Linked DNA regions of Homo sapiens: region 1 is linked to region 2. The links come from fine-mapping of genetic effects on gene expression. A gene starts in region 2. The other region holds a variant in brackets. All regions are shown on one strand. Distances are between the middles of the regions. Region 1 overlaps BORCS5 (BLOC-1 related complex subunit 5). Region 2 holds the start of BORCS5 (BLOC-1 related complex subunit 5).

Evidence for each region.
Region 1: its variant is fine-mapped to the expression of BORCS5 in prefrontal cortex (BrainSeq, PIP 0.92).

The regions. Positions count from the first base shown.
Region 1 is chr12:12,462,622-12,467,946 of GRCh38, reverse strand. BORCS5 (BLOC-1 related complex subunit 5) reads right to left here. Exons shown (of 4, transcript NM_058169.6): 4 at 1-2,401. The coding sequence ends at 2,171. Among named protein-coding and RNA genes, the nearest start is that of DUSP16, 98 kb to the left of the region's middle. The variant G/A (reference allele first, on the strand shown) is at 2,038.
Region 2 is chr12:12,354,504-12,359,874 of GRCh38, reverse strand. BORCS5 (BLOC-1 related complex subunit 5) reads right to left here and starts at 2,797. Exons shown (of 4, transcript NM_058169.6): 1 at 2,366-2,797. The coding sequence starts at 2,423. It overlaps LOH12CR2 (loss of heterozygosity on chromosome 12, region 2), which reads left to right and starts at 2,808. Exons shown (of 2, transcript NR_024061.1): 1 at 2,808-2,947; 2 at 3,070-4,467. RefSeq lists enhancers at 1,368-1,447, 2,334-3,012 and a silencer at 2,388-2,467.

The DNA of each region.
Region 1 (5,325 bases), 110 kb before region 2:
AGCCAAAGGCAGAGTTCTGCGGGAGTGGGAGGAGCCGTGGGCCCAGCGGCTGCCCACACCACAAGTGCAGGAGATCCATGGTAACGTGCACGTGATGGAACAGGGCCTGACCTACATCCACTTCCAGTGAATACACATGGCTGTTGCTCTACTTCCACTTCCAAACCTCATGCAAATCTCTCTCGTGGCCAACCCTCACCAGAGAAACAAACAAGGAAGGGAATTCTGGGAACACAGTTCAGTTTAGCCAAGTTCACGACACTGCAGAAACCACAACATGCCATCAAAATATTAAACTAACTAGAATTCTTTCCGGGAGTATTGAATTTGCCTATTGTTCTTCTGCCATACTTCTCCGCTTCCACCCAGTAATAAGTAGCCTATCACCTACTCAGGACCCCAGTCTAAGTGAACCCCATGTTTTGTCTAACTTCTACTTTAGAAGTAGACACAGTTGGCTGGAGAGCTGGCTGACTGCGTGGTTTGTTTGTGCTGCACTAGGTCTGCCATCCTGCCCTGTGCCAGCCACTAACAGCTGCAGCAGTGGAAAGGCTCGGCCCTCGCAGGCTTGAACTGCCACCCACTCTGTGCTTTCATGTGTCACCTGTATTAAGTGCAGTGAGGATAATGGCACCTAAGCTATTTTTGTAGCTCTGTAAACAGCCCTTCATTCCTCGAAGCTACAAACATATCCCTGTGTTCAGAACCAGGTTCTGTATACTCCAGAAGAAAGACAATGATGGTGATGTCTTAAATATACCACTTTTTGTCAATCTAGGTGAAAGAAATATGAATATTCATTGTATTATTCTTTTGAATTTGAAAATGTAAAATTAATTAATTTTTTTTAATTAGCTGGATTTGGTGGCACACACCTGTAATCCCAGCTACTCAGGAGTCTGAGGCGTGAGGATCCCCGGAGCCCGGGAGTTTGAGGAGTCAGTGTGCTATGATTGCGCCACTGCACTCCAGCCTGAGCAACAGCACAAGACCCTGTCTCAAACCAAGATTAGAATCAGATCAAGTTTAGCCAAGATACATTAAATTAAGCGCATCAATTTTAATCTTGTGAATCTACTGAAGGCTCTTTCTGGTATCTGAAAACACACCTCCCGACGCTTGCAGGAACTTAGGGAACAGGGTACAGGCCTGCATGCCGTCCTGGCCCCAGCGACTCCCTTCAGCTCTGACTTTTAGTCTCAAGGTGTCTGCCTAGGTCTGCTCCTCACATTCCACTCTTTGCTTCTCCAGTCCTTGCTTCCATTAGAACACCTATGATGTGTAAAGTACGACACTAAGCACTTTTGTTGTTACTCAAATAACTTCCTTTCCTAAACTCCCAGAGAAATTCAGCAGCTTTTTGAGCTTTTTTCTTTTCAGAAATGAAGGCCTGAGGCTATACGGCCATATTTGTATCCCTGGCACAATATTGGACACATCAAATGGGTTCAAGAAATGTCTGTGGAATGAGACATCTCTGCAGTCAAAGAAAGCTAAACTATGTCTGCATCAAGGAAACCGGTTATCAGTGGAGATGAATCTGATGAGGGTGTGGAAAGGAAGGCTTCAGCTTCTGATGACGACTAAGGGACACCTAACCTGACAGTCAACAAAATGCCAGTGTTCCACCTGGGCAGGAAGACGCGCCCCAGATAAGGGCTTGGTGTGACGGAAACAGTCAGGGTAGAAACAGGAACAATACAGAGACCTAGATTCAATTAGTTTTTCAAGTTGACCACACATAAACCAGACAGCCTACTGAAAAGTTCATGAGGGCGTTGAGAACACAGAGCTTCGTAAAATATTTTCCCCTTGTCTCCATATTTTTATTCCGGTACCTGGACTGGACTATATACTCTCAATTAAAAAAAAAAAAAAACTAAATAAAAATAATTCTCAATGCAGAGTTCTTCAAAGAATTCCTAATAATTCACACGTTCCAGCTTCAGTTATCACCGAGAACTGGTTAGGTTCCTTCCACACCGGGAAACTGCATCAAGGAAAAGAGCTGGGCAAAGTCAGATTTTCATGCCAGCC[G/A]GACTCCTTCGCACCCACTTTCAGGGAGCCTCCCGCCAGCCTCCAGACCTGGTCAGATGATATGACCTTAGCTCCACACGTCCTCAGGGTGTCGGTGTCTGGGGCTCCCAGCCCCAGGCAGGCCGGGCAGCAGCTACAGCCTGAGCTCGCGGTCGGGCTTCATGCTGAAGGGCTCCAGCCGCTCGCCCTCGGGCAGCATGCTGTTGAGCCTGTCCAGCAGGGGCACAGTCTGGTCGATGCCCATCTGTATGCGGCGGAGGATGGCGGACATCTCGTTCACTTTCTGGATCTGCTCGGCATACTTGGCGTATCTTTTCTGGCGCTCCTGCATGAAGCTGAACAGAGTTTCTACAGACAGATCCATCTGTGGATGGGAAAGAGAAGTACATTATACCTTGTTTAATCAAGTCCTCTCCGCAGGGCCGGGTGTCCAGCCTGTGAGGGACACAGTCCCGCAGATCCAGTGGAAGCTGACAAGTTTTACAGGAAGCACCCAGGGCTAAAAAGCCCTTCAGGGACACAGCTTTATCAACTGTTGTGCCAGAACCACCTTTAGAAGAGAACTGAGAGGGGACTGTCCCTGGCTCTATGTTCTGGGAATGTGCGTTATTTGTACCTTGTTGAGATCCTGAGATTTCTATCTCCCTATATGAGGGGAATTCTGGATGTGGAAATCAGTCAGGCCAAGGCTGAATCTGGCTCTGTCACGTGTATGAGCTGCTAATGCTTATCCTTTGTGTCTCAGGTTGCTTATCTAGAAAAAAACTAGGAGCAGATGGGCGTGGTGGTGTGTGCGTGTAATCCCAGCTACTTGGGAGGCTGAGGTGGGAGGATGGCTTGAGTCCAGAAGGTCGAAGCTGCAGTGAGCCATGATCATGCCACTGCACTCCAGCCTGGGCGACACAGTGAGACCCTGTTTCTAACAACAATAACAAAAATCCCAAACCCCAAAATGCATGTTCTTCACTCAATCCTTCTCTTCCCTGGACGGCTGCAGTTTGGCGGACACTCGGGGAACACTGCAATGGAAGGGAGGCTCTCCCTGCCAGGGCCAAAAATGCAACCAAGGCTCCCGTCCTTACAACACACCACATTTGTCAAACTGTGAGGACTATCTCATGTGCCCTTCTCCCCCATTAAAGAAACTGCGGGCTCTGGGCTGCCCTTGCGTGACTTCTTCTCTTCCCCTTACAGAGGCTCTTTAGTACCCATCACCCAGATAAAAATAGAGAGAGAGACCGCCATCGTGTTGGGCACTTGCACCCCTTCCTCAGCATGGACCCCACTTCCACCCCCTCACCCCTTGTTTCTTTCCCAGGCCAGGAGAAAACAGCTCAACTACTGAGGCCCACACTCCTATCCCAAGGTTCCCAGGCTCCTCCAGCCCTTCCTTCTGGTTTATTCCTGGAGCACGCCCCTTCCCGACCTTGCATCAGGACAAGGGCTCAACACCCGGTACCAGAGAGCCTCTGAAAATGGCTTCGAGAGACACAAAAACAAACTCATGAAAACACGGGGGACCAAAGCCAGCCCCAAGAAAAAATAATTTCCCTTTTGCTATCATCTGTGGGGAGGGCAGGAGGGGCGGGAGGCGACCGAAGCACATCAGTGTTGCTGTCCTCTGGCGGGCCTCTTGCTTGAGTGCCTGCAGGGCAGGAGGAGCAGCTAGTTGGGCACGGGGAGAAGGAGAAGAGAAAAAAAAAAAAAACATGGGAGTGAGAAACTCCAAATAATGTGGAAACAATGCACACTTTCCGGGGTTCTCTGCAGCCCTGTCTGGCGCTCAGCACTTTGGAAGTAGTGAGCCAGGAGAGTCCTGTGGTCCTGACAGTCACCCGCTGGGCCTTTTCAGGGTGGCCTTGCAATGAGCACTGAGAAACACTCCACACACCTGAGAGACAGCGGGGCTCGTGGGAGCCAGGTGGAATCCTGAATTGGGAACCTTCTCGGGCATCACATTTTACTTGGCAGGGCATTCCTGGCCCTCCACCCCGCAACCCTACCAGACTAGATAGATGCTTGAAGAGTTTCTATCTGAAATGGCCTCCAAGGCTCTAACTTATCAAGTCTAAAGTCCTTGGCAGTCAATCCATCCCCGATTCACACCTGATGAAGACTGTTCACAGCCATCTTCACAGGTACTTGTCAAATGGCATGTACTTCCCTACATGTTTCCACATCCAGCTGGGGCCCGTGTTTAATGTCTCCAAAGCTTTTGTAAAGGCACTTTCTGTTAATGCTGAGATGAGCACACTGAGTTCAAACAGGTTGTTCATGCGTGCTGACATCATGTCTTACTTCCATTATGCTCCATGGAAGAAAAAAACCGCAAGAGGAAACTTGAGTTTGCGTGACTTTGAAGATCTCACAGTGACAGAACCTACACTGGACCCCAGCTCTCCGAAGTCCAGCAGCTCCCCTCTTTTACACATATTTCCTGAGCAAGACCCTGTATCACTGGTGCTTTATGAGACTTTTGTTGGCACGTGGCACTGCATTAAAGAAGACTAGATCACATGTAGGGAAAGTTATTACCTTTTAAATGTTTCCCCCATTCTTTGTTGCAAAGAAAGTCTCAACTTGGTGCAAGCAACAATGGACTATCTGGAAAAGGATGGTAAAACTGTTGATGCCTATTTTTGATGTCTCTGACCTTTGCTCTTGAGGTAACATTGTCCTTGATCCATAATCCCTACCTTTACTCCACGAACCCCCAGACACATGCTCATTGTAACACATTTGATGTGACTGTAGGCAGTAAACCAGTATCTCACACAATTCTGAATCACCATTTTGACAATCTAGGGATATATCCTTATTTGCCTTTCCTATTTCTATTTTTGGCACATGGATTCTAACAAGATAACATATATACTAATTGTCTTCTGGATAAGCAGAGGTGTTATGATATCACCTAGGGTTGCCTCACTGAGCACCCATAGCCATTCAAAAGACCCAGCTTGGCCAGGCGTGGTGGCTCATACCAGAACTTTGGGAGGCTGAGGAGGGCGGATTGCCTGAGCTCAGGAGTTCGAGACCAGCCTGGGCAACACGGCGAAACTCCGTCTCTATTAAAATACAAAAAATTAGCCGGGCGTGGCAGTGTGCGCCTATAGTCCCAACTACTTGGGAGGCTGAGGCAGGAGAATCGTTTGAACCCAGGAGGCAGAGGTTGCAGTGAGCCAAGATCGCACCACTGCACTCCAGCCTGGGTGACAGAGCGAGACTCCATCTCCAAAAATAAATAAAATAAAATAAATCCAGCTTCAGACAGGGCAATCTAACCAT
Region 2 (5,371 bases):
AGTTAGGAAAGGAATTAGACATCTACAAGTTATTGGTACACAAGGCCCATCTCTGCGACACTGGAGTTGCAAAGCTGTCTATCCACCCTACCACATCAAGCCAGCTATGTTTAGTAAGTCCAGGAAAAAAACCTGTTCTCAACCCCCGAATGACTGGCCTATTCCCGAGGCTTCAGCCTCCTCACTCTTTTTTTTTTTTTTTTAAGTCAAGGCGGCTGGGCACGGTGGCTCACGCCTGTAATCCCAGCACTTTGGGAGGCCAAGCCAGGTGGATCACTTGAGGTCAGGAGTTCGAGATCAGCCTGGCCAACATGGTGAAACCCTATCTCTACTAAAAATACAAAAATTATCCAGGCGTGGTGGCATGTCCCTGTAATCCCAGCTACTTGGGAGGCTGAGGCAGGAAAATTGCTTGAATCCGGGAGGCGGAGGTTGCAGTGAGCCAAGATCATGCCACAGCACTCCAGCCTAGGTGACAGTGAGACTGTCTCAAAAAAAAAAAAAAAAAAAGAGTCAAGTCTCACTACATCGCCCAGGCTGGATTTAAACTCCTGGGCTCCAGCAATCCTCCCACCTGGGCCTGAGTAGCTAGGACTACAGCCCCCTCACTCTTAAAATTATAGCATTAGTCCAGGGCAAAAATAGCCAGTAAGTCCATTCTAGGCTGAGGCAAAAATCAGAAATTTGGAGGACAAAGAGGGAGATCAATTCAGGTTCCTTGGGAGAAAGTAATCCATTTGGAGGGAAGTGATTCAAATTATAAAGGACTCCCTAGACCAAGAAATCATCCTCTCCCCCAAATATCTTCCAGACTGGGACAAGAATGAATCTTTAAAGTGTTTTATGCTCTAGAAGGTAATATTCCCAGGCTCATTATAGTCATATCTCAAAGGTTAATCCAGGGATGCCATAGAACTGTTCTGCCTCCTAGAAGCTCGTCTCCGGAGGCTTGGCATTCACTCTTCTAGAAAAATCTCTGCTGCTTTTATTTCTTTTCAAGAAATATTTATTTACCTGTTTTGGTAATTTACCTAACATTTTACAAAAGCCATGCCAGAAATCTTTCCTGCTATAAATTGTGATTCCTCCTTCCCCAGATACCAGAGGAAAGGGGACTTCAAAACACTCTAGCTAACCTCTACTACTTTATCTGTAAAATGGGATTACTGCAAAAATTATATGTAAATGTATGTAAAGTACCGGGCACAGGGGAATAGGCAAATTCTAACATCGGAAATGCTCGAATGCTGTTGGTTCATGGGCAAGAAAACAAATTAAAAAGATGCCACACCGCTTCCCCCTAAAATATGTTTCTGCCCTGCCATAGAGGCAAGAATGTCAAAGGTGGCAATTATTATATTTCTTATAACAGATATGACACTCTGGCCCTTCCAAGGAAATAGAAAAACGTAGCAAAGCTAGTAGATGCTGCTCACCATTCAAAGCTGCCCCAATCCAGTCCCCAGAATGTAGGTCTGAACTAGTCTTGAAAGTCACACCTTAAAGTGAAACACCCTTAGATCTATTAGCTTGCCTATTTCTGAATTACAGCTCCTATCAAGAACAGAGAACTTCTAAAATCGGCGACTCTTTTTAGGCCCCAGATTTAACCAATTTGCGTTAGCAACCCCGGAGCTTAACCAAAGCACTCCCAGCTGTCCTAGCGTGTGGGTAACAAAAAAAGCAGCAAATGGTCCTCAATTAAACATCAGCTGCTTTATCTATTTATTGAACACTCACTGTATTGCAAACACAATAATCCTCCCATTCTTGTCTCAAACGCTTAGAGAAGTCTAAAAATCATGGACAGAGAACAACAATGGAAAACACCAGTGCCTGCTGTCTGGCCAACCTCTACAAGATTAGAAAACGGACCAAGACACCTTCTGAGAAGAAAAAGCTGTTTCTGGAGACCTTTGCACTAAAGGGTTCAAAGCAAGTGGACACCTATCACATATCCCTTCAGAAAAGGAACCTCTAACACCCGTTTTTAAGAAACAGACTGTTCTTAGAGGTCCTATAATCCATCCACTGTGTGAGCCAAATCTCACTACATCAGCCATGAGCACTAGAGCCAAAAATTAATTAGCTCGTCTTTTAAACAGGAGGCTGTAGCTGGGAGAAACGGCTGTTTTGAAAATAAATAAGGGCACTGGCGCCCACGCTGGCTTAGCTTGCAGTCACACGCACTTCCATCAGGGGAATCGAGGCCAGGACAGATGGTGACTTTTTTTTTTTCCTACTAGCACGGTGAAGGCTTTTTCTGTGCGTTCCCGTCCGCAGTCCCTGACCCTAGTCTGGGAGGCAGCCCGCTCTGCAAGGGGACAGGGCGGGCTGGAGGAGGGTGGGAGGTTAGGACACCGACCTGAGGAGTTCAGATCGTTGGGTCGGCTCTCGGCCTCGGAGCTCTGCTCACTGCCCATGGTGCCGACAGCGGTGGCAGCAGAAGAACGGCGGGCCGGGCGGTCACCGCTCCGGCGGCGGGCGACAGGGCAGGGGCCAGGGACCGGGACGGGGAGGCAAAGCAGAGTCTGGGCGCCGCAGCGAGGCTAATGTGTGGGGCTGACGCGTCCAGCCCACGCAGGGGCCTGGGCGGCGGGAGAAGGAGAGGCCCTATTTGGGGAACAGAAACGCAAGGAGGCGCGGCGCGAACGCACGCGGCTAGCCCTCCTTCTTTCCGGGAGCCCTAAGAGAACCGGCAGATGACACTGGCTTTGCCGCACCTGCGGCCGGCGGGCGGCGCCGCTTTCACTCACTGGTTCACGCTCCGCAAGCTCGCTCCTTCCGGGACGCAGATGGGCGGTGCCGGCTACGCAAGACCTTCAGTTCCGGATTAGGAGGCCCCGCCCCCCGGCCCGAGGGAGGGGCGGAGAGACCCGCTCCTGCGACTTAGGGCGATGCCACCTTAAAGGGCTTGACCTCCTCGAAGCCAGAACTGCGGAAGAGGGTAAGCCCTTTCCTGTTGTAAGGATGCGTCACCTTTAAAACACCACCCACACTATTAAGCTCTTCAATACCCACATGTGAGAACAACTTTACAAAATAGGTATTTTTAACCCTGTTTTACAGATGGAGAAAGAAACGCTAGATAGACCCAGGATTCGAACCCACAACAGCTTGGATGCAAAGCTCATTTTGAATTCTGAAGAGCTGGGAGTTTAGCAGTGGACGACCAAACAAAAAAATACCAGAAGACGGTGAAAGCAGCAGCTGGAAATGAGAGAAAAATTAAGAAATAGAAAATGCTGTTTCATGTATTAGGGAGTGCACATCTTTAAAGAGAAGTGAAGAACCTTTTTGGCTAGGCGCTTTCTGGGGACCTTGGCAGTTATCAACAAGTCACTCTGAAACTAACAGAAGGTGAGGAGGGAGTAATCCAGAAAGGAAACTGCCATTTTTGCTAGGGCAAGAAAGTAGACCTAGCAATGCAATGCCATCAAGGAGTTAGCTGGCTCTAGCGTTCTCCGAACTTTGCAACTCATTTTATATTACATTGTCTGCGTCAAGAAATTTCAAGTAAATGCCTTGAGATTTTATATGTATAAAATGTAGTCTCTGGCCAGGCGGGGTGGCTCACGCCTGTAATCCCAGCACTTTGGGAGGCTGAGGCGAGTAGATCACGATGTCAGGAGATCAAGACCATCCTGGCTAACATGGTGAAACCCCGTCTCTACTAAAAAATACAAAAAATTAGCCGGGCATGATGGTGGGCGCCTGTAGTCCCAGCTACTCGGGAGGCTGAGACAGGAGAATGGTGTGAACCCGGGAGGCAGAGCTTGCAGTGAGCCGAGATCGCGCCACTGCACTCCAGCCTGGGCGACAGAGCGAGACTCCGTCTCAAAAAAAAAAAAAAAAAAAAAAGTCTCAGAAGAAGTGTCAAGTTGACTAAATGATTTTTAAGTCCCTTCCACTCTACTATATCACAATAATTTCCCCTATTTTACCTTATTTAATTTTCACAACAACCCTGCAGCCTGTAAGTAGGTGACTCCTCCATGGTCAGCAGGTGGTCAGTGGTCGAACTATTTAGGACTATCTGATGCTCTTTCCTCTGCTCACCATTGCAATACAATGAGAAAAATGCAAATGAATCTAAGTACAGTGTTCTCTGGGAATATGAAGATAGAACTAAAAACTGCCTGAGAGATCAGGGCAGGCTTCTAGAAAGTTGTGTCTAACTAGTCTTGAGGTTTACATAAACCACACCAGGCTGATGGGACTGGGAAGGGCCCACTAAGCAGTGAGACCATTCCCTTTTGGAGAGTCCTTGCATCCCCTCCCAGATTTCCTCTTTGAGGGGAAGGTGAGAGAGGAGGTAAAAGGGGTGAGGAATGGAGAATAACTCATTCTGGTTCTTGTTTCCCCTTTTCCACATAAAAGTATATTTGTCTTGTGTTCCATACACCAGTCCATACTGATGTGATGGTGTTTTTTATGCTTCCTTTTGAATAAACATTTCATTCTTAAAAGGATAGTCTGTCGCATCAACTGATGAATGGATAAATAAAGTGTGGTAATCATGGAATATTTATTCAGCCAAAATGAGGGAAGGATGAAATCATACTGATACATGCTACAACATAGAGTAACCTTGACAACATTATTCAATATGAAAAAGGCCTGTCAGGCCGGGTGCGGTGGCTCACGCCTGTAATCCCAGCACTTTGGGAGGCCGAGGCGGGCGGATCACGGGGTCAGGAGATTGAGACCATCCTGGCTGACAAACTGAAATCCTGTCTCTACTAAAAATACAAAAAAAATTAGCCGGGCGTGGTGGCGGGCGCCTGTATTTCCAGCTACTCAGGAGGCTGAGGCAGGAGAATCGCTTGAACCCAGAAGGCGGAGCTTGCAGTGAGCAGAGATCGCACCACTGCACTCCAGCCTGGGCGACAGAGCGAAGACTCCGTCTCAAAAAAAAAAAAAACAAAGCGTATCACAAAAGACCACATATTGTAGATTTCATTTATATGAAATGTCCAGGAGAAGCACTACAGAGAGAGAAATATGTTAGTGTTGCCTAAGGCCGAGGAGGGGTACGGGTGGAAGGGAAATGTAGACTATTATTGGGTATGGGGTTTCTTTCTGGGGTTGATGAAAATGTTCTAAAATTGTAATGATGAATGCACAACTCTGAATATATTAAAAACCACTGTAGAGTACACTTTACCAGGGTAAATTGTATGGTATACAAATTCCATATCCATAAAGCTATATTCAGTAAAAGAACATATGAAGATAAAATTCCTTCCTTCACTGGCTTAACATTTCTTGGGAACCTGAAATGTTCTAGGCACTTGCTACACGTTAAAAATAAAAAATTCAACAAGGCCCAATCCCTGTACTTAGGAAGCTTACAGTCTGGTGGCAAGAA